7 linked regions of the Homo sapiens genome follow. The protein of the gene in region 7 interacts with the protein of the main gene of each other region in a biochemical or structural test. Each region holds a gene or a part of one and is shown on either strand. Other genes may lie near its edges. The genes, in order: IQSEC2, MAP2K2, PALLD, RSRC2, NHERF1, AMOTL1 and ARHGEF11.

The links.
Region 1: the proteins of ARHGEF11 (region 7) and IQSEC2 interact in a test that uses a peptide from one of them, tested with the Homo sapiens proteins (one large-scale study listed by IntAct).
Region 2: the proteins of ARHGEF11 (region 7) and MAP2K2 interact in a test that uses a peptide from one of them, tested with the Homo sapiens proteins (one large-scale study listed by IntAct).
Region 3: the proteins of ARHGEF11 (region 7) and PALLD interact in a test that uses a peptide from one of them, tested with the Homo sapiens proteins (one large-scale study listed by IntAct).
Region 4: the proteins of ARHGEF11 (region 7) and RSRC2 interact in a test that uses a peptide from one of them, tested with the Homo sapiens proteins (one large-scale study listed by IntAct).
Region 5: the proteins of ARHGEF11 (region 7) and NHERF1 interact in a test that uses a peptide from one of them, tested with the Homo sapiens proteins (one large-scale study listed by IntAct).
Region 6: the proteins of ARHGEF11 (region 7) and AMOTL1 interact in a test that uses a peptide from one of them, tested with the Homo sapiens proteins (one large-scale study listed by IntAct).

Annotation. Positions count from the first base shown.
Region 1 is NC_000023.11:53,310,771-53,315,278, forward strand, and holds part of IQSEC2 (IQ motif and SEC7 domain-containing protein 2), read right to left. Parts: intron 1-4,508. UniProt on the Homo sapiens protein: Is a guanine nucleotide exchange factor for the ARF GTP-binding proteins.
Region 2 is NC_000019.10:4,099,725-4,104,232, forward strand, and holds part of MAP2K2 (dual specificity mitogen-activated protein kinase kinase 2), read right to left. Parts: intron 3,483-4,508; exon of another isoform or gene 3,093-3,482; intron 2,730-3,092; coding exon 2,652-2,729; intron 1,557-2,651; coding exon 1,505-1,556; intron 1,420-1,504; coding exon 1,295-1,419; intron 1-1,294. UniProt on the Homo sapiens protein: Catalyzes the concomitant phosphorylation of a threonine and a tyrosine residue in a Thr-Glu-Tyr sequence located in MAP kinases. Activates the ERK1 and ERK2 MAP kinases.
Region 3 is NC_000004.12:168,895,190-168,899,697, forward strand, and holds part of PALLD (palladin), read left to right. Parts: intron 1-403; exon of another isoform or gene 404-563; intron 564-1,359; coding exon 1,360-1,410; intron 1,411-3,303; coding exon 3,304-3,525; intron 3,526-4,508. UniProt on the Homo sapiens protein: Cytoskeletal protein required for organization of normal actin cytoskeleton. Roles in establishing cell morphology, motility, cell adhesion and cell-extracellular matrix interactions in a variety of cell types.
Region 4 is NC_000012.12:122,509,522-122,514,029, forward strand, and holds part of RSRC2 (arginine/serine-rich coiled-coil protein 2), read right to left. Parts: intron 4,354-4,508; exon of another isoform or gene 4,246-4,353; intron 1,668-4,245; coding exon 1,588-1,667; intron 1-1,587.
Region 5 is NC_000017.11:74,751,259-74,755,766, reverse strand, and holds part of NHERF1 (Na(+)/H(+) exchange regulatory cofactor NHE-RF1), read right to left. Parts: intron 1-4,508. UniProt on the Homo sapiens protein: Scaffold protein that connects plasma membrane proteins with members of the ezrin/moesin/radixin family and thereby helps to link them to the actin cytoskeleton and to regulate their surface expression. Necessary for recycling of internalized ADRB2.
Region 6 is NC_000011.10:94,865,460-94,869,967, reverse strand, and holds part of AMOTL1 (angiomotin-like protein 1), read right to left. Parts: intron 4,027-4,508; coding exon 3,800-4,026; intron 771-3,799; coding exon 495-770; intron 1-494. UniProt on the Homo sapiens protein: Inhibits the Wnt/beta-catenin signaling pathway, probably by recruiting CTNNB1 to recycling endosomes and hence preventing its translocation to the nucleus.
Region 7 is NC_000001.11:156,948,243-156,951,742, reverse strand, and holds part of ARHGEF11 (rho guanine nucleotide exchange factor 11), read left to right. Parts: intron 1-43; coding exon 44-170; intron 171-1,725; exon of another isoform or gene 1,726-3,117; coding exon of another isoform or gene 3,118-3,170; intron 3,171-3,223; coding exon of another isoform or gene 3,224-3,244; coding exon 3,245-3,424; intron 3,425-3,500. UniProt on the Homo sapiens protein: May play a role in the regulation of RhoA GTPase by guanine nucleotide-binding alpha-12 (GNA12) and alpha-13 (GNA13). Acts as guanine nucleotide exchange factor (GEF) for RhoA GTPase and may act as GTPase-activating protein (GAP) for GNA12 and GNA13.

The sequences.
Region 1 (4,508 bases), on a different chromosome or scaffold from region 7:
AAAACAGCAGAAAGAAGGCTGGGCCTGAGCTAGGGGGAGAAAGAGAACAGCACATTTAAGAAAAGATGCACTGGGCGCAGTGGCTCACACCTGTAATCCCAACATTTTGGGAGGCCGAGGTGGGCGGATCACCTGAGGTCGGGAGTTCGAGACTAGCCTGACCAACATGGAGAAACCCTGTCTCTACTAAAAATACAAAATTAGCTGGGTGTGGTGGTGCATGCCTGTAATCCCAGCTACTCGGGAGGCTGAGGCAGGAGAATCCCTTGAACCCAGGAGGCGGAGGTTGCAGTGAGCCGAGATCGCGCCATTGCACTCCAGCCTGGGTGACAGAACGAGAGACTCCATCTCAAAAAAAAAAAAAAGAAAAGAAAAGAAAAGATGCTCTGAATGCTGGCATTCATACTAGGGTGACTCTTCTAATCAGCGTTCTCTTTTCTGCTCACACCCTGACTGGCCTTATACAAGTCCTTTCTCTCTCTGGGCCTCAGTCTTTTCATCTGTAAAATGAATAGCTTCAGTTGGATGATTTGTCAGAGTCCTTCCAACTTGTGATTTCTTGATTTCTATGCTGGTATTATTAAAACCCTACTGGTCATGAACGCTGCCACTCCTCTGAGCTTCCAGAGCAGGCTGCGCTCCCCTCCATCATCATCTTTCTCCCCACATAGGTTATCTCTACTCCCACTGCCCAAGCACAGGCCTGATCATCTCTCATCTAGACTGCTGTACCAGCCTCCTCCCTGGATACCCTCCAATCTATCTTCCAAACTGCCCTCTAGGGGGATCTCTCCAAAACGTGGCTCTTGACATGTTCTCCCACACCACAATAAGCACCTCTCCCCCAGTTTAAAATGCTACTTGGCCAGGCATGGTGGCTCATGCCTGTAATCCTAGTACTTTGGGAGGCCAGGGCAGGTGGCTCACCTGAGGTCAGGAGTTTGAGACCAGCCTGGCCAATATGGCAAAACCCTGTCTCTACTAAAAATACAAAAATTAGCCAGGCATAGTGGCACACGCCTGTAATCCCAGCTACTCGGGAGGCTGAGGCAGGAGAATTGCTTGAACCTGGGGCGGGGAAGAGGCTGCAGTGAGCTGAGATCACGCCACTTCACTCCAGCCTGGGCGAAAGAGCAAAACTCCGTCTCAAAAAAATAAAAACAAAAACAACACAAAAACAAAACAGCAGAAAGCTCCTGACGCTGCTAGTGAAGTGTCCTCAAGATGTGAGCCGGCCAACCCTCCAGACTCCCCTGCGAGTCTCTCTGTTTGTGCTCTAGTTTGTACTGAACTCATAAAAAAACAAAACAAACAAACAAAAAACCTCCCCATACACATATCCTGCTGGGCCCATACCTCTGTGTGTTTGCTCATGCTGGCCCCTCTGCCTTAACCTCCCTTTTGCCCCCAATTCCCACCAACCCACATGCTGTCCTTCTTCACCTAGCTAACTCAAACTCATCCTCCAAGCCTCAGCTCAGGTATCACCTCCTCCAGTAAGCCTTCCCTGACAGTCCAGGGTGATGTCTCTCCTTTGAGCACCTGTGGCCCCCTGTGCTCCCCTCTGGCATGACACACTGGATAGCACACTGCAATCGTCTATTTCCACCACCACCTTCTCCACCCAATTATGAGCACCTTGAAGCCAGGAACTATATACTAATCATAGAATTCTCTGCCTGTGATGGCACAAGGCATGGCACATCCTGGCATGCAATGTTCACTGGACTGACCTCTCTCTCTGAAATGTGGTGAGCTGCCACATGGTTTCTCCTCCTGTCCTCCCACAGCACAGAGCTTTACAGAGTTATTATTAATAATAATGGCTATCGCTGAGTAAACACATACTGTGTGCTCAGCGCTTCACCTACGTCATCTTATTTAATTTTCACAACCATCACAATGAGATGGGTTGTTTATGAATTGGCTGGCATATCAGATATACAGTTGTGAGAGATGCCTCTCAGATTTATAAGAAAATGTGGGGGAAGAGCCAAGTTAGGTACTTTTCATCACAGATATAATGACAATAATTCTAAAGTGGTTATATGAAGGAAAATATTGGTTTTATTCAGGTGAATGCAGTATGCTGTATCCTGGAATCCAGCAGGAAATCACAGGGCCTGGATATGCAGTCCTATCACTCCTTTAAAAAGGTATAAAAATCACATCGCTCCAACGAAATGCACTAGTGAAACATTAGTGAAATGGTACCTATTAGGTGATGATAGTGATACATTTACATCTAAAATGTTGGAGGAATAATCCTGATCAGCCGTGTAGCTCTGGCTTGTCATCTTTGTTTTGAAAGGGATGCGATGCATCGGTCTTTGCATTGTTGTGTGTTTGCCACATTCCGCCTCTAGGGGGCAGGGCAGTCTCATGTATTATTTTCCATTCTCAGCTTTCCAGCCTGATCAGGACCTTGATGTACGGTATGCCAGGCAGCCAGGAAATTTTCTGATACAATTTTTTTGAGGGAGGTAGGGGGCTGGCAACATGAATCTCATGCATCAGAAAATACAGTTTTATTCCTATTTACTACTTGAGAAAACTGAGGCTCTGAAAGTGAAGTGATTTGCCTAGAGTTACACAAAGTCCTTCCATGGCACCACACTTTCTCTGAATGCTAAGGTCCCAGAGAGCTTCAGCTACTAAGCACTGGGGAATGGGCTTCCCCGTGTAAATGCTTCCAACAGGCAGGCTTGGAGAGAAACCAAATACCATGAGGAAGTTATAGTAACTGGCAAATTATGTTGCCCTAAACGAGCTTCCCCAAAAGAGGAAGTAAGTCACTTACTAAGCATTCTTCCCCATGACCAATGTTTATGATCCTGCCAGGGAACACTGCAGTGAGTGAGGCAGAGGGGCCAAGTCTTATGTCAACCCTGAGATACCATGTCCAGCTCAGGGTCTGAGCTCAAGAAAGGTTTGATGGATAAATAAGCAACTTCCCACTGGGCTGAGTGAACTGCACACAGGTCCTGTGCAGGCCTCTTTGCTCCTTTCAGAACAGAAGACTTGGCATCGAGGGTCAGGACCACAGCCTGACATGGCAGGGAGAGATAATGATCAGCAGATTGGTCTAAATGTCTCCAAAGTCTCGTCCAAGTCTGCTACCTTGACATTCTATGAATCGGAAGGCTGGTGAGCGTGAGAAGAGACAGCAAAGGCCAAAATGGCTCCAGGGAGCATGAGAAAAAAGCCACAGAAAAGCCAAAAGAATTTATTTTTCCTTAGGGATGGGATCTCAATTTGTTGCCCAGGCTGGAGTGCAGTGGCACAATCATAGTTCACTGTAACCTCAACCTCCCTGGCACAAGTGATCCTCCCGCCTTGACCTCCCAAAGTGCTGGGAGCTACTGTGCCTACCCCAAGAGAATTCTGAAGTTGTCATTTCTTACTACAGGAGTCCTGGAAGGAAGAAAAAATTAGGTACCTTTGGCTATTAGTTCAGCAGGACTCAATCAGACATTCATTTATCTACTCAGTATTTATTAAGCAGCTACTATGTGCTGTGCTATGTGTTTCCAAGCTTTTAGCTCCTTCACTCATGCCCACAGCACCTAACACAGAACCTGACACACAAAATGCACTCAGTATATGTCAGTTAAATGTAAATCTGAAGGGGGTCTCAGTCTAACAGAGGGGACATGAGATGTAAACAACCATGAAGGAATAAAAAGGGGCAATGTGCTCATTGAGAGGGTCAAGGATAGACCAAACATCAGAGACACCAGCAAACAGACATAGGAGAGGTAACAGCTGAGTCCAGCCTGGGAACTGGGTACAGCAGCCCAAGAGAAGGGAACAACATGAGCAAAGACCTAGAGGCTAGCAGAAGGCCTGAGTGGGCTAACCAGGGGGGCACACGGGTCAGCCTGGCTGGAGCATAGTCTGTACAAAGACGAGAGGAAAAAGGCAAACTGGGGACAGATCCTAAGAAGACCATGCAGGGCAGGCGGAGGAGTTCTCAGGCCAAAGAGAGAGTGAAACTACTGGAGCTGGACTGCAGAACATGGTCTGGCTGCACCTCATCAGAGGCTTGATGGAGAGAGAGCAGGAGGGGCAATCTACTAGGAGACCATGGCCAAAATTCAGGGGGTGATGGTGAGAGGGAGCCTGCCTAGAGCAGGGGTCCTGGGAGCTCTGTTGGAGGAAGCTAGAGCCACATACCTGGAGTAGCTCTGATGTCTTTAAAGCCCACCTGCGGGAGGCAGCGGTGTACCATAGGTTTGGAAGCCAGACAGTTCTGGGCTCCATCTGCCTGAATAACCTCGGGCAGGTCACTGTACCTCTCTGATCCTTGTTTCCTTGTCTGAAAAAATGAAGATAATAGGCTGGGCGCAGTGGCTCATGCCTGTAATCCCAGCACTTTGGGAGGCAGAGGTGGGCGGATCACCTGAGGTCAGGAGTTCGAGACCAGCCTGACCAACATGGTGAAACCCCGTCTCTACTAAAAATACAAAAATTAGTCGGGGGTGGTGGCACGTGTTTGTAATCCCAGC
Region 2 (4,508 bases), on a different chromosome or scaffold from region 7:
ACATCTCAGAGGCTGCTCCAAGGCTCAATTTGGCAGGTTGCTGAATCCCCAGTCGTTTCCTGAAAGACCCCAGATTCCAATTCCTTGGTCCAGAAATTAACTAAGGGCCGGGTGCAGTGGCCCATGCCTGTAATCCCAGCACTTTGGGAGGTTGAGGTGGAAGCCCAGGAGTTAAGACTAGGCTAGCCAATATGGCGAGACCCCATCTCTACTAAAAACATTTTTTTAAAAGTTAGCCAAGGCTGCCGGGCACGGTGGCTCACGCCTGTAATCCCAGCACTTTGGGAGGCCGAGGCGGGCGGATCACAAGGTCAGATTGAGACCATCCTGGCTGACATGGTGAAACCCTGTCTCTACTAAAAACACAAAAAATTAGCCGGGCGTGGTGGCGAGCGCCTGTAGTCCCAGCTACTCGGGAGGCTGAGGCAGGAGAATGGTGTGAATCCGGGAGGCGGAGCTTGCAGTGAGCGGAGATGGCGCCACTGCACTCCAGCCTGGGTGAGAGTGTGAGACTGTGTCTCAAAAAACAACAACAACAACAAAAACAAAAACCAAATTACCCAGCTGTGGTGGCACATGCCTGTAGCCCCAGCTGCTTGGAAGGCTGAGGCAGGAGAATTGCTCCCGGGTGGGAGGCGGAGGTTGCAATGAGCCAAGATTGTGCCATTGCACTCCAGCCTGGGTGACAGAGCAAGACTCTGTCTCAAAAAAAAAAAAAAAAAAAAAAAAAAGAAAGAAACCTGGTAGGCACTGCTAGAGACAAAAACCTAAGAGAGAATTCCAACAGGAAGGGGAGATCTGGCCGGGCGTGGTGGCTCAGGCTCACTGCTAGTGGAATCCCAGCACTTTGGGAGGCTGAGGAAAGAAGGTCACTTGAGTCCAGGAGTTCATGAGCAGCCTGGGCAATACAGCGAGACCCCGTGTCTACAAAAGATTAGTAAATTAACAAATAAAAAATAAAGAGCAAGGGGAATCCGAAAAGCAGGCTCCCAGGAGGCACCAGCTTTAGACGTGCCTTGTGGCAAGTGGGGAGAGCTGATGAAGGGGAGGGTGCAGCTGGGGTGGGACTGTCCCGGGGGTGCTAACAGCCATGTAGGAGTGTGTGCCCACGAAATAGTTGGGAAAGCCTCGTGGGAGGCGGGGAGAGCTGCGCAGGAGAACTGGGAGGGACAGCTGCGCAGGAGACATGGGGGTGAGAGCTGAGGGGGAGAGCTGGCTGGCAGAGCTGGGTGGGGAGAGCTTGGGGGAGAGCAGCAGGGAGGAGAGCTGGAGGGGAGAGCCAGCGGGGACTCACAGCCATGTAGGAGCGCGTGCCCACGAAGGAGTTGGCCATGGAGTCGATGAGCTGGCCGCTCACCCCGAAGTCACACAGCTTGATCTCCCCTCTAGAGTTCACGAGGATGTTGGAGGGCTTCACATCTGGAGGCGGCAGGCTGCGGGTGAGGGGCGCCCAACAGTTGCCTGCCGGCCCCCGGGGCTCTGGGGAGGGCGGGCTGGGCCTTACCTCGGTGCATGATCTGGTGCTTCTCTCGGAGGTACGCCAAGCCCCGGAGAACCTGCAGGGGAGCGCGGAGGGAGTCACGGGACAAGGCCACCAGGGCTTAGCTCCTGACCGAGCCCGGGGGTCAGAGCTGAGCAGTCAGAGCTGGAGCGAGGGAGCTGCGGCAGGAACCATTTCAGGCTGTGAGGAGCTCGCTGGGGTGGAGCAAGCGAGGCCAGAGACGAGACAGTGCTGACAGCCCTGTGCTGGCGTGTGCAAGTCAACCCCGGTTCCCATGGCCGCAGTGCCGCCGATGCCACTACTGCCTTTGATTCAGAGCACACGGCTTAGCCCCAGGGAAGCTGAGATGGTGGCCCATGGCCCGGGAGTAGGCTGGGCTGCCGAGTTTGCCCACATCAGCCTGAAAGGCAGCATCTGGGGTCCCAGGGACTGTGCTAAGGGCCCCCAGATGGGACGGGCTAAGGGTGCCTGGGAAGGACGATGTTTCCCCCAGGCCCGCCCTGGAAGCAGCATCCCGAGAAGTGAAGCAAGCAGCACAGGCAGTGTGACGGCAGCTTTCAACTCGGAAACGCGTGTCTGGCAGCATGCGTCCTGTGTCTTAATCCAACACTGGTATGGGCAGGCGGGACTCGGCCCCTGCTATGGACAAGGTGCAAGCTCCAAGAAGCAACACGCACGGTCTGCTGAAACCACACGGCTCTACGGAGCAGCTGTGCTGGAGACCGGGCAGCAGAGACGCCCTTGGCCCCGGTGACATTTCTAACAGCAATGGTGAGTGTGTCTGGAGGTCCTGGCGTCCCACATCCCACCCCAGAGTCTCCCTTTCAACAAGCTCCTGTCCCCTGCAACGTGCCAGCTGCCAACATCCCCCTGCCACGAGGGGCAGAGGGGACCAGTGTGGCAAACAGAGGATACTAAGAGTGAAGAGGGACCTATAACGTCTTCACTTGGCAGATGGTGACCTCAGGCCCCAAAAGGGACGTCACTTGTTCAAGCTCCACAGCAGGTGGGCACAGCCTTGGCCACTCTCTTTCTGCAGGGGCCACCCTAACCCCCACCACACTGTGAGTGGCTCCCGGAACCCTGGCCGTGTGGAAGAGGTCCGTGCAGAGTGCGGTGGGGGCGCGATGTGGGTCTGCGGTGGACTCACCGCGATGCTGACTTTCCCCAGGATCTCCTCGGGAATCCTCTTGGCCTCTTTCAGCACCTGGTCCAGGGAGCCGCCGTCCTAGAGGGCACACAAGGAGTGAGTGCAGGCTCTGCGCAGGTGGCCGGGAAGCCACGGATGCGTCCCCCCACTCCCGGCGAGGGGGTGGTCTGCCTCCTGACGGGAAGCAGGGGCCGGAGCCCAACTCCACCCACGGGCCAAGGGCAGGGCGTCTTCTGACAGTTCTGCCTTTGGGTCTGAACACCCACCCACAAGGTGGGGAAGGAACAGGGCCCAGGGTTCCCCCGCCTCCCGTCCCATCCTCGAATCAGTTGCGTGACTCGGCCCTCCTGAGGTCGCCACGGCAGAGGCTCTGCTCCGGGCCAGCCCAAGCCGCGGCCGGGGGCTCAGGCAGCTGTGGGGCCCGCACTCCCTGCAGCCTACGTGGTGGGCTTGTCTGTGCGCCACGGGAGGCGGCCAGGCTGGAGACCAGCGTCTTGGGCCTGCGTCCTCTTCCCAGCACACGAAGGGAAGGGGAGGGTGAGGGCGCGGAGGAGACGCGGGTGCTGCCCCGCGTGGGAGGAGGCGGCGGGTCGCTGTGTGCCCGTCCAGACCCCCAGGGGGCTCCCTCGCCAAGCCCTGCGGCTCCACTGCTGGGCGTCTGCCCTGCGCCTGTCCCTGCCACCTAGGGCAGAAAGGCCAGGCCGAGTAGGACCAGGGGCCAGGGGGTGCATGGACTGCAGGAGGGATCCCAGTGACGCCAGCCCAGGTGACGGTAACCTCGGCCCCTCCCCACAGCCTGTGGTCTCCTCGCCACTGTGCCGGGCATCCTGCGGAGGGCCTGGAAACGAGTCATCATGGGTAGGCTGGTCCCCGGGTGTGGCCCCACATCCATGTCATAAATGATGAAACAGAAATTCCATGTCTTGCCCAAGGCTGCCTGGCAACAAACCTGGGGACCAAAACCCCCAAATGCCAAAACCCCAGGCACTGGGAGCCACCCAAGGTGCCTCTTCAGAGGCAGAGGCTCCGGACACACCTGCCAGGCCACCCCCAGGACAGCAGGGGTGACAGGCCAAGTTCCCACTGCCACCGTCTGGCGTGCGTCTCTTCTGTGCTCAGCAGAGAGGAAAGTGGAACTGAGGCTAGAGAGGGCGGGCTGGAGGAGCCTGGAGAGGCTGGCTGGGGAGCCTGGATTTCCCCACCATGCTGCTCCAGGACTCCTGCAAAAGCCCAGCCTTCCCTGGGATGGCTTTCATTCACATGGGTGGGAGGAGCCGGGGGAGAAATCCTGGGACTCAGGGGTGCCCGGGTTGCCGCTCTCTGGCCACTTCTGCCCAGCTAGGCTTGGAGAGAAAGGCCGAAGGCAGTTCTAGAAAACCCAACACGCTTTGAGACCTCTAAAGCATACACGTGACTCCATCCACCAGCTCCAGGCTGAAGACGCAGACACACAGGGTGAGAGGGCAGGTATGGCCAGGGCTCAGACAGCCCAGGAGGAGGTGCCAGGACGGGAGCTCCAGTGAGCCAGGGCCAGGTGGAAGCTGCTTCTATTCTCAGTTTTTATCAATCTACCTTAAAAGAATTACTTAAAATGAGGCCGGACATGGGCTGGGAGCGGTGACTCACGCCTGTAATGCCAGGACTTTGGGAGGCTGAGGCAGGCGGATCACTTGAGGTCAGGAGTTTGAGACCAGCCTGGCCAATATGGTAAAACCCCATCTCCACTAAAAATAAAAAAAATTAGCTGGGCGTGGTGGTGGATGCCTGTAATCTCAGCTACTCGGGAGGCTGAGGCAGGAAGATCACTTGAACCTGGGAGGCAGAGGTTGCTGTGAGTCGAGATCGTGCCACTTCTCT
Region 3 (4,508 bases), on a different chromosome or scaffold from region 7:
TGGCCAACATGGTGAAACCCCGTCTCTACTAAAAATACAAAAATTAGCCAGGTGTGGTGACGCACACCTGTAGTCCCAGCTACTCGGGAAGCTGAGGCAGGAGAATTGCTTGAACCCGGGAGGTGGAGGTTGCAGTGAGCTGAGGTTGTACCACTGCACTCCAGCCTGGCAGCAGAGTGAGACTTCGTCTCCAAAACAAAACAAAACTAAAAACACATATACGACTTTTGACTCTTCAAAAACTTAACTAACAGCCTACTGTTGACCAGAAGCCTTACTGATAACAAAGAGTTGATTAACACGTATTCTGTATGTTATATGTATTATAGACTGTAGTCTTAAAGTAAGCTAGAGAAAAGAAAATGTTACAAAGAACATCTTAAGGAATAGAAGATACATTTACAATTCATTAAGTGGAAGTGGGTCATCATAAAGGTCTTCATCCTCATTGTCTTAAATTAGAGTGGTCTGAAGAGAAGAAGACAAGGGGTTGGTCTTGCTTATCTCAGGGGTTGCAGAAGCGGAAGAAAATCCATATATAAGTGGACCCATGCAGTTCAAACCTGTGTTGTTCAAAGATCAACTGTTTAGTCTTAATATCTAGTCAAAATAAAATAGAAAATATTATCTCTTTATCTTCTTTCACATATATACAGATGTTCTTCAACTTAGTATGGGGTTATGTCCTGATAAACTCATTATAAGTTGAAAATATTGTAAGTTGAAAGTGCATTTAAGGCGGGGCGCAGTGGCTTACGCCTGTGATCCCAGCACTTTGGGAGGCCAAGACCGGGTGGATTACCTGAGGTCAGGAGTTCAAGACCAGCCTGACCAACATGGTGAAACCCCGTCTCTACTGAAAATACAAAAATTAGCCGGGTGTGGTGGCGTGCGCCTGTAGTCCCAGCTACGCGGGAGGCTGAGACATGAGAATCGCTTGAACCCAGGAGACAGAGGTTACAGTGAGCCAAGATCGTGCCACTGCACTCCAGCCAGGTGACAGAGCGAGACTCCATCTCAAAAAAAAAAAAAAAAGTGCATTTAATACACCTAACCTACTGAACATCTTAGGTTAGCCTAGTCTATCTTAAATGTGCTCACAACACTTACATTAGCTTACAGTTGGGCAAAATCATCTAACACAAAGCCTATTTAAAATAAAGTATTGAATATCTCATGTGATTTATGGAGTCCTGTACCAAAAGTGAGAAGCAGAATGGTTGTGTGAGTACTCACAGCACCGTTACTACCAAACGCATATTGCTAGCACAAAAGTTTCACTTAAGGAAAATTAGAAATCTTGCTGCATTCTTATTATTTCTATTATTAGTCTTCACATCTTTTTTTCTACCATTACAGGACATTGGTTCTCCTCATGCTTCTGTAGGGAGTCCTCTGGATGGTCAAAAGGTTAAGCTTTTCACCTTTCTTCTCCTTCCAGTCTTTCTCTGTGTCTGTTTTCTTCTGTTCTTCCTGTTTTACGTGTGTTTCTATCTTTTCTGCCATATATTAATTATAAATGCTATGACCAGTGTCTGTTTCATTTAATATCAGATACACAAAATTACTGCAACATGAGTTTTCTTGTCATGTATTTACCAGCTTGAATTTATTTATTTATTTTTACTTTATGTATTTATTTATTTATTTATTTATTTTGAGATGGAGTTTCGCTCTTGTTGCCCAGGCTGGAGTGCAATGGTGTGATCTTGGCTCACTGCAACCTCTGTCTCCTGGGTTCAAGCGATTCTCCTGCCTCAGCCTCCCAAGTAGCTGGGATTACAAGTGCATGCCAACATGCCTGGCTAATTTTGTATTTTTAGCAGAGATGGGGTTTCACCATGTTGGTCAGGCTGGTCTCGAACTTCTGACCTCAGGTGATCCACCCGCCTTGGCTTCCCAAAGCGCTGGGAATACGGCATGAGCCACAGTGCCTGGCCTCTGACTTGAATTTAATTCTGTCATTAGTGGATACTCTGAACATTAAATCAAGAAAAATTTTTCATTTGTTATATATACCTTTCTATGGGGAACAAAAGTGCTAATTCTTCAAGGGATTAATTTGATAGTAATTAGATGAAGCAAAACAACTTGTGGTATAACTCTTGCAGTTTTATTCATACTGTTGTATTTCTTCCCTCAAACCAACAAACTTGTTTTTTAAACACTGAGTAACTTCTTTAAGAGAAAACATAGTTAAAGTTATCTTTCATTTAATATTAAATAGGGAATATTTACATAGACTCCCTTGTCTTCATTGCACTTTTTTGTTTTGGAGACAGGGTCTCACTCTTTTGCCCAGGCTTGAGTGCAGTGGCACAATCACGGCCCACTGCAGCCTCGACTTCCCAGGCTCAAGTGATCCTCCCACCTCAGCCTCCCAAGTAGCTGGGACAACAGGCATGTACCACCATGCCCAGCTACTGTTCTTTTTAAATTTTTTGTAGAGATGGGGTCTCACTTTGTTGCCCAAGCTGGTCTCAAACTCCTGGCCAGAAGCAATCCTCCCACCTCGGCCTTCCAAAGTGTTGGGAATTACAGGCATGAGCCACTGTACCTGGCCTTTAATGCACTTTGTAGGCAAGGAAATTGTAGGATCCACCGTAATCACCACAGGAATGTTGATGGGTTGTTTTTTTTTTTTAAAGCAAAATTTTGGCTAGACTGTCAGTCCTATTTTTTCTTCTAAAGATGGTGGGTTCCTAACAGCTGCAGAGCTGAGGAGGCGGCCCTTGCAAGGCAGGGATTGTTAGAGGTGGGGGAAAAAAAACAAACATTTTTTTTTTTCTATTATTCTTTTACTATTTTTTCTATTACCATTTTTTCTAGTACCATTTTTTCTATTATTCTTTTACTATAATTGTATATAATATGGCAGCTGCTTGCCACATGTACTATGTGGAGAGATGTACCACCCTGCATCAGCTTTTACCCTACAGAAGGAAATCAGCGTTCCATTATATTTTATTGTTATCAACAGTTTAGGAATACATAGCTTTGCTTTTGCCTTTTTCTTTCCTTCCCCTTGTTTCCCCTCGCCTCAGAGAAAAGAAGGAAAAAAAAATTCATCTTTCCTACCCCCCTCTTTTTGGATGATAGGACTTGAAGACAATCTGAAATACCACATAAACTCACTTCCAGATGTTTTTTGTTTCATATGCAATTGAATTGGGCTCAGACTGTGTTTTTAAGCTGTATGGTAAAAATATCACTGTCTTCTAGGGCCTTATTGGGGGGCAGGGAGAGACGTGACACTTTGTCAGAAGGGATTGAGTCTGCTAACTTAAACTTTCCTTGATTCAGGAATACAAAGTCTCCAGCTGTGAACAGAGACTCATCAGTGAAATAGAGTACAGGCTAGAAAGGTCTCCTGTGGATGAATCAGGTGATGAAGTTCAGTATGGAGATGTGCCTGTGGAAAATGGAATGGCACCATTCTTTGAGATGAAGCTGAAACATTACAAGATCTTTGAGGGAATGCCAGTAACTTTCACATGTAGAGTGGCTGGAAATCCAAAGCCAAAGGTGAGCTGGGAGATGGAGGCTTTTTAAGAGTCATTCTCTGAGGAAAGGTTTAGCTTCCAAAACATAGCATGCCAGTAGGAGAAAGAGATACAAATGATCTTTCTCAATACCCACGATATAAAGGGTTTTAAATATTCTTAAGTTCTGGGCCATCTTCAGGAGGCATTAGAAACCAAAAAAGGTGGTGGGGGGAGTGGAGTTTGGGTTTGAAGAATAGAGAATAACTAACAGGGAGCTCTTCACACACCTATATCATTTATTCCTCGTTGTTATTCCCAAATCACAAATAACTAAACTGAGTTCTGTGAAGTGAGTTTCCAAGGTCAGAGAGCTGGTGAGTGGCCAGGCCTGCATATGAACCCAGTGCTCTGTACCATACAGACAAGTAATGCTCACCACTGGTTGTAAAAACTTCCAATCTTTAATCAAAAAACCAAGGCTGCTTATATTAATATTTACAGAGGGAGGTGGGGTGAAGAATATTGTTTAGAACGGATAATGACAAATTCTGATACCATGCAGGACTAGGATGACCTGGATGGGAGCTCTCTCCATACAAACATATGGAAATGCTGGATAAGGAGCTGCCCTATCTTTAAAGGAAGGACTAGAATAACTGTTTACTAGCCCAGCAAGGCAGTAAACAGGAGTACACTTTTCCCTAGAGCTTGAGTGAAAAGAATAAAAAAAAGGGAAAAAATTAAAACCCCTAAACTACACTATCACATGATAGGGAGCCAAAAGCTGAGAAATGTGAAATTTAGTGCTGGATGATTAAAATTCTTAGAAGCAAGCAAAAAGTTGCCTTATATAAAGGTAATAATATGTGAAGAAATAACCATGAGGAGAGTTGTGTTAGGCCGTTTTTGCATAAAGGGATTCCTGAGACTGGGTAATTTATAAAGAAAATAGGTTTTATTGGCCAAGCATGGTGGCTCACGCCTGTAATCCCAGCATTTTGCGAGGCCGAGATGGGTGGATCA
Region 4 (4,508 bases), on a different chromosome or scaffold from region 7:
CAAGTTCAATAAAGCCCTGGTATTTCCACTGTGATTGAGCAGTCCTCTGTAAAAAAAGACACCTCTGATTACCTATTTTTGTCAGTCCAGAATATAACCTTAAAAAGTACTTAAATTACCAACATTATGGGAACCAGAGTTACCAAAGAGAGTAATGATGTAGTAAAAATAAAATGGCTATTTGTAAACTTTTAGAGTTTCAAATAAGTGCCACTGTTTACCAAAAATGTAAAAAACAACAAAAAACCATCTTCCAGATTAAATTTCATACCAAATCAACAGTAAGCTCTTCGTGATAATTTTTTGTTTTTTGTTTTTGTTTTTTTCTTTTTCGTGAGACAGGGTCTCACTCTGTCACCCAGGCTAGAGTGCAATGGCGTGATGTTGGCTCACTGCAACCTCTACCTCCCGAGTTCAAGCCTCCTGAGTAGCTGGGACTATAGGCACACACAACCACGCCTGGCTAATTTTTGTATTTTTAGCAGAGATGGGGTTTTGCCATGTTGGCCAGGCTGGTCTTGAACTACTGACCTCAGGTGACCCACCTGCCTTGGCCTCCCAAAGTGCTGGGATTACAGAAGTGAGTCACTGAGCCAGGCCTGATAATTTTTGAAATCTGCAATGTTTGTTACGCATAAAAACTTGATTTCTTGAAAGAGAAATACATATTTCAGATCAGTTCACTTTCTTGCATAAACTACATTTCCAAAATCGTAAAAGACATCTGGGGCCGGGCGTGGTGGCTCATGCCTGTAATCCCAGCACTTCGGGAGGCCAAGAAGGACGATCACCAGGTCAAGAGATCGACACCATCCTGGTTCAACACGGTGAAACCCCGTCTCTACTAAAAATACAAAAATTAGCTAGATGTGGTGGTGCACACCTGTAGTCCCAGCTACAGGGGAGGCTGAGGCGGAGAATCGCTTAAATCCAAGAGGCAGAGGTTGCAGTAAGCTGAGATCACGCCACTGCACTCCAGCCTGGGCGATGGAGCGAGACTCCGTAACAACAACAACAAGATCTGTCATGATGACTAGTGTTACATAAACAAACATACTCATTACTAATTTATCAACAAAAATTATCCACATGGACCACATCAGAAACAAGCTACAAAACACTTAAGTGAGAACACTAAAATACACGTTTACAGTGTACTGATGGGAAGTAGGAATCATAGGTGATTTTCTTCCTATTATTTTCTATATTTTTCAATTTTTCTACAAAAAGCATGTCAAACTTAGGCTGGGTGCAGTGGCTCATGCCTGCAATCCCAGCACTTTGGGAGGCTGGGGCAGGAGGACTGCTTAAGCCCGAGATCAAGAATAGTCTTGGCAACATAGTGAAAGGTCCTCTCTACAAAAAATAAGAAAAAAATTAGCCATGCATGGTGATGTGGGACCTGCAGTCCCAGCTACTCGGTAGGCTGAGGTGGGAGGATCACTTGAGCCTGGGAGTTTGAGGCTACCATGCGCTATGCTGGAGCCACTGCACTCCAGTCAGAATGACAGAGCAAATCCCTGTGAAAAACAAAAAAGCTTGAAAGAGCTCAAATCGAGATGACTAAAAAAGAATGAAAAAAATTACCTGCAGCTATTTCTTGTTGTTTTTGTTTTTCAACCATTTCCTTTTCTCGCTGTTCTTGTAATTTCTTTGCCCTTTCCAACCTGCAAAATTAATTTCAATGAATTTAAAATAACACAATATAAAACCATTATGTATATATCTCTCTATATGTGCATGTACAGAGACAAGCCAACTTCCATAAAATTTTAAATTTTTAGCATCCCTCCACCGATAGCCGTATGTGAAGAAAAAGCAATCATTCTTAAGATGATATAAGCTACATTTGAAGAATACCACAACAGTGGTTTTAAACATTTTTGAATTGACTAGTCAGAAATGGGCATAGTTTTTATATGCAGTTCCAATTAACAAGTGAAAAAAATTACGTCTTGCAAGTAACATATTGAAAGCTGAGTAAATTTTAGAGCATGGTTAAGTAGTAAATAAATTTATAGAATTATCTAAATGTTTCTTGAGGGAGAAAAAGCCAGCCGATCAAGACATTCGGATAATTTTTTATATTGTACAGACCTTAGTAAAGTCTTCAATTTAATAAAAATCAAAAAGCCAAAACTAAAAGGTCAAGCAAACCTTGCCATTCTCTGTAATCTAATAAAATGGGAGGAAAACTTTTCTCAATTAGGAAATTACTTCTAGCAGTTGAACAAATTTATCATTTACAAAGGAACTAGTAACATGAAACACAAATTCATCCCAAAACAAAAATGAATTTTTTTTTGAGACAGTCTCACTCTGTTGCCCAGGCTGGAGTGCAATGGCACGACCTTGGCTCACTGCAACCTCCGCCTCCTGGGTTCAAGCGATTCTCCTGCCTCAGCCTCCTGTGTAGCCGGGATTACAGGTACACACCACCATGCCCAGCTAATGTTTGTATTTTTAGTAGAGATGGGGTTTCACCAATGTTGGTCAGCCTGGTCTCAAACTCCTGACCTTCTGATCCGCCCGCCTTGGCCTCCCGAAGTGCTGGCATTACAGGCGTGAGCCACCATGCCCAGCCCAAAAATGAATGCTTGTTCTCTCTACTCACTCTGTTGAATGAGTAGTGTGCATACATTAAATTCACTAATGAGTATGCACACTAAACAAGCTATATGTTAAGTTTACCCTTTCTATATAGCAAATAACAAGTAACATTATCTTCACAATGAATTCCTGAAAGAGGAACTCTTTTCTTCCTAAGGATTCCCTGATTTATCAATCAAGCCAAATGCCACTAACGCCCTCTGTAATGTGGTATAAAGGGGACAGGACTGACAAAACTTGTTTTTGTTTTGGGGCACTATGGGTAATACAATGCAGGGGTAGTAAATTGGATTTGCTTTAAGAATTGTTAAGTCGGCCCGGCGCCACGCCTCTCGCCTGTAATTCCAACACTATGGGAGGCTGAGGTGGGTGGATCACCTGAGGTCAGGAGTTAGAGTCCAGCTTGGTTATTAACATGGTGAAATCCCGCATCTACTAAAAATACAAAAAATTAGCAGGGCGTGGTGGTGGGCGCCTGTAATCTCAGCTACTTGGGGTGCTGAGGCAGGAGAATCGCTTGAACCCAGGAGGCAGGGGTTGCAGTAAGCTGAGATCACACCACTGCACTCCAGCCTAGGCAACAAGACTTCATCTCAAAAAAAAAAAAAGAGGAAAAGGAAAAAAAAAAATTGTTGAAATTTACATAAAAGAAATATAACAAGCTATAATTTTATTCCCTTTTATGAAGCACATATGCATGGAAGGCATAACATAGACTTGACTTTGTCCTTGAGAATAAAAGTTTGTAAATTAGCAGTAACAATAAAATGTAGGTCGCAGGCTTGGCAAGGTGGCTCATGCCTGTAATCCTAGCACTTTGGGAGGCCAAGGTGGGAAGACTGCTTGAGGCCAGCAGTTCGAGACCAGCTTGGCCAACATGGCAAAACCCGTCTCTATTAAAAAGAAAACAAAAATTAGCTGGGTGTGGTGATGCGCATCAGTAATCCCAGCTTCTTGGGAGGCTGAGGCACGAGAATTGCCTGAACCCAGAAGGCAGAGGTTGCAGTGAGCCAAGATCATGCTCCTGCACTCCAGCCTGGGCAACAGAGCAAGACTCCGTCTCAAAAATAAATAAATAAATAAATAAATAAATAAATAAATAAATAAATAAATAAAATAAAATAAAAATAAAAAATAAAAAAAGTAGGTCACAGATCTGAAATGTATTTCCTAAACAGTTTTAAATCCTGACCTTTAAGCCAAAAAAGAAACCAATATAAAAGGTCTATACATGGTAGTTTCTTAAGAAAAAAATTCTCCAGATTTCAAGGTAGTAAATAATCTCATATTCTGAAATTAAAGAACTACATTTAAAACTTTATCTGAAAGATCACCAAGTAATCTATATATCAATGACATTTTGGATGCTATTAACGGCTTCACTTTTAAAAAAATCCAAAAACACAAACAGAATAGACTTATGGCATTCAAGTAAATAAGAGCTTAAAAAATATTTGTCAGAGTTAATGAAATTACAATCTAGCATATACTAAATCCAATTTTATAGTAAATTATTTCCATACTAGTTTCAGAAAGAAGATACGTGTGACTACAACTGGTTGCATTAAAATGGCCATTGAAGATTTGGAATTAATACCATTCACTAAGGTGAATGGAAAGAAGGGGTGAGCTCACACTTTTGCTGCTGTTCAGCTGCAGTTTCTGTCAGGCTGGGTTCCCAGGGAAGCACATCAGGTTACACTGTGTTACCAGCCTGGGCAACATAGGGAGACCCCGTCTTCTCTACAAAAAATACAAAAATTAGCCAGGCATGCCTGTGGTCCCAACTACTTGAGAGGCTGAGGTGGGAGGATTGCTTGGGCCCAGGAATTCAAGTATGCAGTGAGCCGTCATCATGTGCCACTGCACTCCAGCCTGGGTGGGACCCTGTCTCAAAA
Region 5 (4,508 bases), on a different chromosome or scaffold from region 7:
GGAGCCTCGCGAAGCTGGTGGCTGCTGCCCGGACAGCACAGACCTGTGCTGCCTGAGACTGCCCCAAACACACTCCTCTAAATACCCCTGGCCATTGCTGTTCCCCTGACCTTAGCACAGGGAGAGGCTGCAGCCTGTCTCGGAGAATTCAGAGCTCTCAGCACCCAGCAGTGAGTGGGACTTGAACCTGGCCAGCATTCTCTGTGTGTTCCCACACCACCCCGAGGTGACCTGGACCTCAGGGAATCTGTAACTCTTGTCCTTTTCTAGGGCCTAGGGACCTAAACATTGCCTAGGAGTCTGGGGACATGGTGAGTTGTCCTACCATGAGGGGAAGGCTTCGGTCAACAGTGAAGACCACCCTTGAGGGGGGCTCTCTGTGCAGGTTCTGGGGAGTGAGGGCGGGGGTAGATACTTGGTTACCAGATTCCAGATTGACCTATCACATCACGTGAGAAGGGATGGGGACAGGAGCCTGCCACTTATGGGCTGAGGCACTGCAAGGATGCCCTGCTAGGGACAGGAGCACCTGGAAGCCCTGGATCCTTACAGGAAGCCAGTTCAAGCAGCCTGAATTTATACCACTGTGATGGTCCAGCTGTGGCTCAGAATATGATGGGCAGAAACACCTGGCAGAGTCAGGCTTCAAGCACAGCCTACTCATGTGGCCAAATGGCTGTGCAGGCACTAGAGTCAGAGGGTTGGGTTCCAAGACACACCCCTGCGCTGTGTGGGAGGAGTCGCTAGCTCAGAGTCCTGGGACCCGCCATGGCCACCTTAACTGATCAAGCCTCAGCCTCCATAGGCAGAGAATGGGGCCAATATCTGCCTCACTGGTGGTCATGTGGATTAAATGAGACAGGCAAGGTTAGTACTTAGCACAGTGCTAGACACAAATAGTAGCTATCATGTATTGAACACTTACTGTCAACCTACAAAATAGAGAAAACAATAGCTAATTTGTCTGGGGGACAATGAAATGCATATTGGCTGGGTGTGGTGGCTCATGCCTATAATCCCAGCACTTTGGGAGACCGAGGCAGGTGGATTACCTGAGGTCAGGAGTTTGAAACCAGCCTGGCCAATGTGGTGAAACCCCATCTCTACTAAAAATACAAAAATTAGCAGGGTGTTGTGACAGGTGCCACCCAGCCTGGCCACCGTGGTGAAACTCCGTCTCTACTAAAAATACAAAAATTAGCAGGGTGTGGTGGCGGGTGTTTGTAATCCTAGCTACATGGAAGGCTGAGGCAGGACAATTGCTTGAACTTGAGAGACGGAGGTTGCAGTGAGCCGAGATCACACCACTGCACTCCAGCCTGGGCAACAGAGCAAGACTGTCTCAGGAAAAAAAAAAAAAAAAAAAAGAAAGAAAGAAAGAAAGAAAGAAAGAAATGCATGTCAACATCTTTATGTCATAGGTAGAGTGCCTAAAGGCACTGTACAAACCTGTTTCCTTCCAGGTAGGGCCACTCTATCTTAGAGCAACGAAAACAGAGGAACATTTGTTATTGGGGTCTAGAGCTCTGGTTTCTCCCTGTAAAGAGTCCTGCAGCACCAACAAGACCTCGGCTGAGCTTCTTCTTTCTTTTTTTTTTATTTTGGAGATGAGTCTCACTCTGCTGCTCGGGCTGGAGTGCAGTGGCGCGATCTCGGCTCACTGAAACCTCCACCTCCCAGGTTCAAGCCATTCTCCTGCCTCAGACTCCCGAGTAGCTGGGATTACAGGCACCTGCCACCACGCCTCGCTAATTTTTGTATTTTTAGTAGAGATGGGTTTTTACCATGTTGGCCAGGCTGGTCTTGAACTCCTGACCTCAACTCCTGACCTCAACTGATCCACCCGCCTCGGCCTCCCAAAGTGCTGGGATTACAGGCGTGAGCCACCGTGCCTGGCCTGAGTTTCTTATTAATTTCCCACCCCACTTTCCCAGGGACCATTGAGATGGGACATCTGGGAAAGGGGAGAAGGACCCCATCTAGACATATGGAGTTCCTTGAGAAGGAAGCCCCCATTCACCCCCCTCCCCCTGTTTTTTTGGTAGAGACGAGGTCTCACTATGTTGCCCAGGCTGGTCTCAAACTCCTGGGCTTAAGCGATCCTCCCGCCTCAGCCTCCCGAAGTGATGGGATTACAGGCACAAGTCACTGCGCCCGGCCAGGAAGCCCCCATCTATCTCCAAGAGAATCATCTCCAGAATTACTGAGTTAACAGGAGCTTGAAGGTAAGAACCAGGGGCTACACTGTTTTGCCAGCAAAGAAAGAGATCCCAACACACAAACAATCACATACCCTGTCCATTTCAAATCCAAACACCCAGCAGCTCAAGCTCTGTTCTGCCCTACCAGAGCTCCAACTTGGTTGGTGTAAAATGGCCCGCCCGCCCTGGGAAAGAGGTTGATGGCCCTCCAGCTAACTGTGCCCCACCACCCACCTTGCTCCCTGGGGTGCCTGCACTCTGACTCTGGGATCAGGGTCAGGGCTGGCAGGAAACACCCCAAACTAGCACTTTCATTTACAAACCTGTCATGCCACCAAATCTTCCCAATAACCCTGCAGGCAGTGCCTTTCACAGAGGTGGAGGCTGAGGGTTGCAGGGAAAAATGAACTCCCAGGATCCCAGAACCAGCACACGGCAGAGCTGGGATTCAAACACTGATCTGGCTGACCCCAAAGCCTGGACTTTTGGCTTTCTAGTTTTCAAATAGAAGCTGCTAGCAGGCAAGAAAGAAGAGTGGGTAGGTTCTATCTGGAATTCCAATCTCTGGGCGGGGCGGGATGAGCTGAATGAGGACAAAGGTCCCTGACTGTTGTTATATATTCATTCATTAATTCAAAAACTGTTTTTGAGAGCCTCCCTACCATGTGCCAAGGACAGCGCTGGGGATAGAAACACAAATAGGCCACAGTTGATGCCCTTGGGCTTACCACGTAGTGGAGAAAAAGGTCACAAACAGATGATTAAAATATTGTGTGTTTAGAGCGATAAAAGATGTAAGGACAAAGAGGAGGCGGAGGCCGAGGCTGGCAGATCACCTCAGCCCAGGAGTTCAAGACCAGCCTGGGCAACACGGTGAAACTCCATCTCTACAAAGAATTTAAAAATTAGCTGGGAATAGTGGTGCATGCCTGTAGTCCCAGCTACTAGGGAGAATGAGGTGGGAGGATCGATTGAGCCCTGGAGGTCGAGGCTGCAGCGAGGCGAGGTTGCGACACCACTCCAGCCTGGGTGGAATCTGTCTCAAAAAAAACAAAAACAAAAACAAAAACAAAAAAAGTGAAGGAAAGGAAATGCTAACTCTGCCTACTGGATTAAGGACAGGCTCCCTGGGAGGGGACAGAAGTGTCAGGGTGTGAAGGCTTAGAGGCTAGAGGGGAATTCGGACCCTGGGTGTGGTTTTGGGGGTAGGGAGGCAGTGGTGAGAACAGGCTGCCAGATGGAGAAGGGCCATGGAACAGCATATAACTCTTAAAAAAAAAAAAGAAAAAATTTAATAGAGACAGGGTCTTGTCATGTTGCCTAGGCTGGTCTCAAACTCCTGGGCTCAGGCGATCCTCCCACTTTGGCCTCCCAAAGTGCTGGGATTACAGGTGTGAGCCACCACACCTGGCCACAACGTATCATTCTTAACCCACAGTGACCATCGATCAGGCACTGACTGTGTGCCAGGCTTGGCCACAGTGGCATTTGCCCAACTAGGCAGGCTGACCCAGCGCTAGCTGCCCCATGATAGGTGTGCAATGATCACTATGAAATATGTATTCATTCCAATACCAACTGCAAAGGCTGGCTGAGCCTGGACTCAGTGCCAGGCACTGAGCTACGTGCTTTACACACAGCCTCATGCAATTCCGAGGTAGCTGCCATAACCCCCAACTTACACAAGAGGAAATGGAGGCTTACAGAGGTGAGGTAACTTGGCTTCGCACAGCCTGGCTAGTACAGCTGAGCTGGCTCGGCTCTGCCCGGCCGGCACTCTGAACCCAGACTCAAGGGTTTAGGCCTCATCCTGTGACTGGTGGTGAATGGGGGGAGGAGGGCTTTAAGCAGGGGAACAGCAGGGCGGGTCTTGCTGCTCCTCTCTCCCCACGGGGCAGGCGGGGAAGGCCATCCACAAAGCAAAGCCGGTGGGCAGAGCTGGAGAGCCACTTCCACCTCCTTAGGCCTAGACTCCCCAGCGGGGATGGCCAGTGTTACAGGCACCCCTCAGCCTCTGCCCTGAGTGGTTCTGGACACAGCTGGTCTTCCCAGCCAGAGGCCACCCAGCCAACCACTCTCTGCGCCACACTTTTCCACTGATATCATCACTTAGTAAGTGGAGGGCTAATGAAGACAAGGGAACAGCCCCACCTTGCACACAAATTCAGACTAAAACGAATTGGCAAACCTCCATTTGATGCTTTATGTAGGAAACGGGTGTGTTTTAGAAAAACGAACTCTTACAATGTCTGTTAACATTTTTTCTAATAACCACATGGGTGTCTGTATGCTCAACACACAGGATTG
Region 6 (4,508 bases), on a different chromosome or scaffold from region 7:
GCTCGTTAGTCCTGGCCCAAGTGCTGTGCCACACGTTAACCGACTCTGCAGGTCAATCTACCTTCTCCTTCCATCACAATGTCCTCCACTGAGGCCAGAATCCCTGGTAAGTTAGAGCCCTGAAGGCAACAGTGAACTTGTGCCTTTGATGTACCTGGTGCCTAATTCTGGCTCCCAAACATACCAGAGGGCATTCAGCCCCTTAGAGGGTCTGTTGTCACTCCATCCGGGGAAAGGTTAGTTAAAAAGTATGCATTGCCAGGGTAGTCTCAAGCCGTGCACTCATTTCAAATAGTAATAAACTAGATGTGTCTATATGCATATTTATTCCCGTAATAAGAAAGGGCACACATATCCTAAGTGCATTAGAATAGCATCCCCATAGAGTAAGAGCTGATGGGTGCCCCTGCTTCCTCTCTAGCTCAACAAAAGATTCTCTTAGGCCAGACAGTTCCACAGTTTTCAGGGGCATCAAGGTGGGGTAGCCCACATACCCAGTTTCTCTGCGGTCCCTTTGGCCGCTGGGTGTTTCAGGACGGGGCTGTGAGCAGGGGTCGTGCTCAGCCGGCCGCGGCTGGGAAGGGAGGCCATGCTGGGCCAGAAGAGCTCGGCACTCTTGTCAGTCTGTGTGCTGCTGTCCTTGCTGCCTGTCTTGGCGTGGGCACTGCTGGCTGCCGTAGTGGAGGCTATGGAGGACAGTGCTGAGGTGGGTGGGGGTGGCAGCAGTGGGGCAGAGGCATGCTCATGGTGCTCCTTCCCCAGCAGCAATCCTGAGGGCAGAGAACAGATTTTTCAACATTCTTTTTTTCCTTTTTTTTTTTTTAAATCTAGTCTTGCAGATCTGTTCCTTGTTGATTGATGATTGCTTCATTCATTCATTGATTCATTCCCCAAGCATTTAATAAACACTTATTACAAGGCTGATAAAATAACAAACACTGAGAGAATAAAAAATGGAAGACCTAGTCCCCTTCCTAAAAAATTGTAGGTTTTTTTTGTGTGTTTTTTTTGTTTTTTTTTTTTGGAGTGGAGAAGTAGTTGTCAAGTAAACTGATTATAACTTAATATATAAACTGTAGGATACAAATAAATTATTCACAGGGTGGTATGGACGAACAGAGAAGTGCCTAATTGCCAGCAGGAGGGGTAGGGAGGTTCCCACAAGGCTTTCCAGAGACCATGCTTGCTGTTACCAACGTGGCCCAGAAGGGCTGGCCTGAAGCGTGGCAGTGTGCTTAAGAAAAACTACAAGGCTTCCCCGGTCCTAGACATGTTCCCATTGGCTTGCTGCTCTTCTGAATAGTTCACAATTCCACCCCACTCCTTGTAATGGATGATGGTCCCCCACAGGCTTGGATTCAAAGATAAACATGCTACCTGCACATTTCTGCGGTGGAACTGTAGCCTCCCAGAAGCAGAAAGCCAGCCAGCCTCCTAGGAAAGGCCACTTAGCCCTCTCCTTACCCCCTTCCTCAAGAGTAGTGAGGCTGGGGTGGGGAAGAGGGGATGCTGGCTATGGAAATGGGAGGCGTGGTGTGCAGAGGTGTCCATTTTCCTCAGAGCCTTCCTGGAAAGCTGGGTGGGAGGATAACTTTTTATTTTTAAATACAGCACACACGCGGGAAAGTGCCAGCACCCTAGAATGCTAGCCTATAGAAAAGGCGGTAAGCGCAATCAAGTATTTGTTCTCTTATCTGGTTAGATAGCCAGCAATTCATAAAGTATCCTCGCCAGAGCTGTTTTAAGGTGCCCATTTAGAACTCAGGGCAGTTCAGTTTGTCGAGAGCAGTGCTTTTCAAAATGCAATGTGCATAACAATGACTTGGCTATACCGTTAAAAGGAAGACCTGATCCAGCAGGCAGGGCCTGGGATTCTGTATTTCTAAGAAGCTCCCAGATGGTGCTGGTGCCACTGGTCCACAGACCACGCTGAGCAGCAAAGGCCTTCACCTGCGCTTCCCACATCATCTCACTTCATACTGCATGTCATTCCTGCGAGACAGGCCTTATCCTGTCTTACGGAGAAGGAAATGGAAGCTCACAAAAACTAACATCTCACAGCTAAGAAGCAGCAGAAATGGGACTCAAACCCAACTGTGCCTGACTTGGAGTCCAACCTATGTTCTTTCCACTTCATCGCCCAGCCTGTGGAAACTCCAGAGTCTGCAGGATGTCCTCGTAGGGAGTGACAGGCTGAATAAGTCACTAGCCAGCCATAGCTCCTGGGATACCCTGGGCAATTGGGAAGGTATATGCTGTCACCTCCACCTCCTTCCAGAGCCTATCAGGCAAGCAATGGTGACAACATGTGGGGAACTGTGCAGTCACCCATGAACCTGCCTCAGCCCCTTGGAGAGTCCCTGTGTTTGTGACACGTGGACACCAATGACAACAATGAGGAGGAATATCAGTGCAGGGAACACAGCAGCTCTTCCTTCAAACAAGTCCTCCGGCTCCCAGGCCTGGTTTAGACATGCCAGGTCCTGGGGCATACGGGCACAGACACCAGAGATGCCTGCCTGGCTGCACGTCACAAACAGGGGACTCCCAGGGAGGTTGCTACCAGAGCTGAGCAAATTTTCAAACTCCTTGACCAGGCCTGGCTCAGCACTGCCTCCCAGCTCTCTAGCTGGGGTGGGAGCTAAATGTCCTTGGGACAGTCTTTGATGATCTCAGCTGCTGTCCACACACGTCTTCTTTGAAGTGCATTTCCTTTGGGGGCAGGGGCTGCTGAAGCCACCAGTGGAGGGACTTCAAACACAGATTCTGGTTGGGAGCCTTTGATCCCCCCAACTCTGTCGGGTTCATATGGAAGCTCTTATCCCCTCTGGCCCAGAGCAGCCAGTCTCCTTTGGGGTCTTATGCTGAGGACCACTGGCTCTCAGCTGCACAGAGAAACAAAAACACGATCTGATGTGGGGAAATGCATCAAAGAAGGGCCAGACCCCTGGAGAGGCCAGAGTGCAGGGGAAGGATGTGGAGGACCTGTGTCTGAGCACGCTGCCTGCTTCCCCTCCAGCTTGGCTAGCCCAGCCAGCCAACAAGCCTGCCTGCCCCCAAGAAACCTACTCCTGGCTAAGACCACACTTAGGGAATTCTGCCCATGCAACAACAATACAGCAAAAACTTACCACCCCTACCTTATGCGAGAGAGCACTTCTTCCAATGTGCTCTCCCCATTATCCCATTCTTCCCTCCCACGCCCCATGGGGTAAAGCAGGCAGACACTGTCCTCCCCCCATTATCCCATTCTTCCCTCCCACGCCCCATGGGGTAAAGCAGGCAGACACTCTCCTCCCACCATTATCCCATTCTTCCCTCCCACGCCCCATGGGGTAAAGCAGGCAGACACTCTCCTCCCCCCATTATCCCATTATTCCCTCCCACTCCCCATGGGGTAAAGCAGGCAGACACTGTCCTCCCTTTCCAGACGTGGAAGCAGAGGTGGAGCCGTCATACAACTGGTCTAGAGCAGAGCCAAGTTCAGAGGCGTGATGTCTCTAGGCTTTTCTATGAGAGCCTTTTGTGTTATAAGGGTCACCTCAACTTACAACAATAATAGATAATTCTGATCTGAGTCAACCCATGGCTAAGAGCTACTCCAGTGGTGCAGTCTTTAGAATTTACACAATGCTTCCACATATCTATAACTGAAGTATGACTGATTTCCCTCCCCACTTCACAGATGAGTAAACTGAGACCAGGAACTATTCAGGGACATTTCCGTGTCCCATGAGTGGCAGAGAAGCTGTCTGGTCTTGCTTTTCCAATCATGGTCTGACAGAGGTGTGGGGCTCACCTATGCTCCCCTTCCAGGTCTTCTCTTCCTTCTTTTCCTCAGCCAGCTGGCTGCTGGTAAGAGAGGTCTGGCGAGAGTGTGTCCCAGTAGCTGCTGCTATGGATGGAACGGAGCGGGCAGGACGTAGGCTGGAGGAGTCTGTCTTCCCGGCATCTTTACGAGATCGCTGCTGCAGGACCTTAATCATAGCATCTTTCTCTATGATTTTGGCATGGAGATTTTTAATACTGTAAAACAAAACAAAACAGTCTCCATAAAAAGCCACTTGGCTAGAAAAACTTGAAACATTTATCTCAGGCTGTCCCAAAGACTTTAATTGTAATTTAGGGATACAGGATGAAGCACAGTACGAGTCTTCAAATGTTGATAATCTCCAAATTGTTAAGACAGGTCTTTTGTCATATGTCAAAAGAGTACACCTTCTCTGGCACCTTGGGAGACTGGGACTTCAGCGAGGTACAGTTAGAATGACCGTGGCCACATTCCTGGACCGAAGTCGGCTGGGGACCATATTTAGAGGGTCTAGCATTGGCGGTGGGGGCCGGGGGTAGGTAGGGGATAGGGAAGCATAAAAACTCTAAAGCCTCAAACAGGGTGAGCTTTCAGCTAAAGTCAATTTCTCTATTTTCTAAGAAAAAAGAACCAAGATGAACAGGTTCTCTGGTAGAAGATGATTTTTCTGGAAGAATGCTGAGTTATTTTCACAACT
Region 7 (3,500 bases):
TGAACAGCAAGCCTAGTGTCCTTCATTTTCTTTTTGCTTCTAGTCAAACCAGGCAATGTGAGGAACATCATTCAGCACTTTGAGAACAACCAGCAGTATGATGCCCCAGAACCTGGGACACAACGACTCTCGACCGGAAGCTTTCCTGAGGACCTGCTGGAGAGTGACAGGTAGCACTGGCTGGATGGGACTCGCCAGCTGCTCGAAGAGTGGGTCATGGGCAGGGCTGATGCTAGGGTTTAATTCCAGCTACTTGACCCCTCTCCACTAGCTTCTAAGGCTCCCTTTACAGAACTTCCTCCCCACCCCCAGTATCTTCAGGAGACACATTGTGTGCCAGTGAACAGGCCAGTGGAAGAGCAAGCAGATCCCCGACTTCCAGCCCAAGAACTACACACTTTTCAAATTCCCTTTGGATTTATCACCTGACTACTCAGTAGCCTTCATCCAAGATCGAGCTAGGTGATAAAAAGCAGCTAATCAGGAAACCCTAAGTGACAAGGATAAGGAAGACTATAGTGGGGGCAAGAGGGAGTCCTGGGGAAAAAAGACCCAGGCAGGCAAAAGAAAGTGGTTTCCTGTCTGTATGTGAAGAAGAGAGCCAGAGATGAGGTTCTGCTGGGTACTTTAAAGACAAATGATGTAACTATAGGCATCAGATGTCCACCTCAGCAAAGAGAGGCAAAGTGGATTGATTACAAATGGACTGTTTTTCCCTTTTCAAGAAGAAAAAGGGGAATTGAGACTGGCATCTCTCATATTCTTCTTTGGTCAGGTTCTAACTAGAGTCCCCATCTGGTATGAAAACTTGTTCTTGGACTTACTTGCTCTTGATTGTGGCATGACAGCAGTCAAGTCATGTCTAAAATTCTATAGCCAACACTTAAAAACCAACACCACCCTTAAAGGTGACTTAAACAGGTAGAGTAATATGGTCTTGTGTGGGGGGAAATAATGCTTGTGTACAGTCAAGCCTCAGAGCCACTGAGCTGGAGTATAGGCAGGCATGAAAGCAAGTCAGTATGCAGCAGCGTGGATATTCAAGCCATTTTGCCTTCGTTTGTTTGTTTGTTTGTTTTGGGGATTTTTTTTTCTTTTTTAAAGAGACAGGATCTTTCTCTGTCACCCAGGCTGGATTGCAGTGGTGCAATCATAGCTCACTGCAGCCTCAAACTCCTGGGTTCAAGGGATCCTCCCACCTCAGCCTCCTGAGTAACTAGGGATACAGGCATGCACCACTGCACCTGGCTAATTGATTTTTATTTTTATTTTTTTGAGACAGTCTCACTATGTTGCCCAGCTTGGTCTCGAACTCCCAACCACAGCAATCTTCCTGCCTCAGCCTCCCAAAGTGCTAGGATTATAGGCATGAGCCACTGCACCTGGCCTATTTTGCCTTTGAAATAACTAATTATCAAACCATAAGCCAACCTTTCCTGCTTGAATGCAGGTTACTCCTTTCTGTTTATATGAAGCCTTTTTTCAGCTTAACACGTGTTAAAAGATTTTGCTGCCATGAGAATTGACAGATTTACAGGAGACAAAGGTTAGATTTGTACTGGGGGAAGGTTGAGTTCTAACATTAATGGGTAAGTTAAATACGCAAATTATGTGATTCCTGTGGAAGCACATGATGTCGTAGATATATCAAATATTTTAAGATTATAAGACATCAACATTTTGAGAAAATATTTGAGACCATTTACAAAGTTGCATTCTTGGCATTGCTAGGTAAATTTGCCCTAAGACACTTGCTAGGATCCTAAAGCTACTCTAAGCAGAAGCCTTTGGGTTTGATGATTATCAACTCATTGGCAATCTCAGAAGAAATAGTATTAGCAATATGGTGGGTCAGAGATTGTTGTAGATACTCAACAGGTATAAGATGCCCCAGTTCTAGAAGGCAATACCCTAGGAATTTGGGGGCAAAGACAGATGATATGCCTCACTTCTTGGTGAGGAGCATTACTTACTTCTGGGTGCTTGAAGGAAGGTGCTTAGCTCTGCAGCCCCAGTAACTCCACTGGGTGTTTGTTGTGGTGGTACAGTGACCCATTAGGACACTGAAAAGTGTTCCGAGTTAGTCTGGGTTGGGATTGTTCTAACACAATTCTGGAGGGTGAATTCAATAAGGGATCAGTGGGCAGTATGTTTTCTAACCCTGCAGACAAAACCCTCAGGACCCTAGGAGATGAGCTCCATTTTGGATCATCTGGCAGTTTGGGCACAATGAATGGAGACCGAGACATTTAGCTCCTCATTGCAGCAACCTGCTGTGCTATTAAGAGCTCTGCAGACATTTCCAGGCCTCCTGTGGTCCTAGAAGCAGAGCAGGATGTAGATTACTAATAATATCAGAAAACCAGCCCAACAGGGCCACAGCATGGAGGTGGGGTGACCATCCTGGGGCAGCTAGGGGTCAGAGGTGCCAGCTGTCTTGGGCTGATGCACTGCAGGACTCGACACCGCAACACCCAGTCATCAGCATCTCATCAAACCCCAGAGACACTCAGTAGCCAAGCACGGCAGGCCAAGGAGCGGGTCCTGCCTATCAGTAAAAAGGCCCCTTTAAGCACAAGCCTGTCTGCTCTTGAGAGGAAATGGAATCTTAGGAACAGTATTGTTAAGATAAGAATGGAACTCATCCACATCACAACTGGAAGGCTAAGAATCCAGCAGCAGATAGAACTTTCTGACAGGCAGTGTGGAAAATCCTAAAATGAGCTGTGAATATAGTGACTCCACTTTCCTCTTAAGACCTCTTAAAAGAGGTTCGCCTCAGGCAGAGTTAAAGGTGGGAGCTGACCCGTTCCAAAGCAGAGGCAACGTGAACTGGCCACTAGGGGCAGGGAGCTGGGACCTTGTGTTCCCTGTTGAGGGACGATGATGTCTACCACCTTCTTGACAGAAGCATGGTGTCTCAGGCCTCTGGACACACTACAACTCAGAGTCTGTTAGCCCCAGATTTCATCTTCCTGTTAGGATCCCTTCCTAATAGCTCCAGAGGAAGATGACTGTCCATCCATCAGGCTAGGCTGGGGAGAGAGGAGGAGTTTGTAGAGCAGCAAAAATAGTCTGTCATTGAGAAGCTTCCACTGCCATCCAGCTGCTTTGGCCATGTTCAGGAGGAGAACCTGTGGCACGGAGGCATCTTTGAGATGGAGCCACAGGTAAGAGTTAGCCAGGATGTAAGCATGGCCCACTGACTTCCCAAGTCCCAAAGTCTTTTGTCCCTTCCCCCCAGTTCACGCTCAGAGATTCGCCTGGGCCGCTCTGAAAGCCTCAAGGGCCGGGAAGAGATGAAACGGTCTCGAAAGGCAGAGAACGTGCCCCGCTCTCGCAGTGATGTTGACATGGATGCTGCTGCGGAGGCTACTCGCCTGCACCAGTCAGCCTCGTCCTCTACCTCCAGCCTCTCCACCAGGTGGGCAGGGCTACAACGGCTGCACCCATGGACATCTCAGGGGTGGCGGCAAGGATAGAGGGTTGCTGAGAGTTGA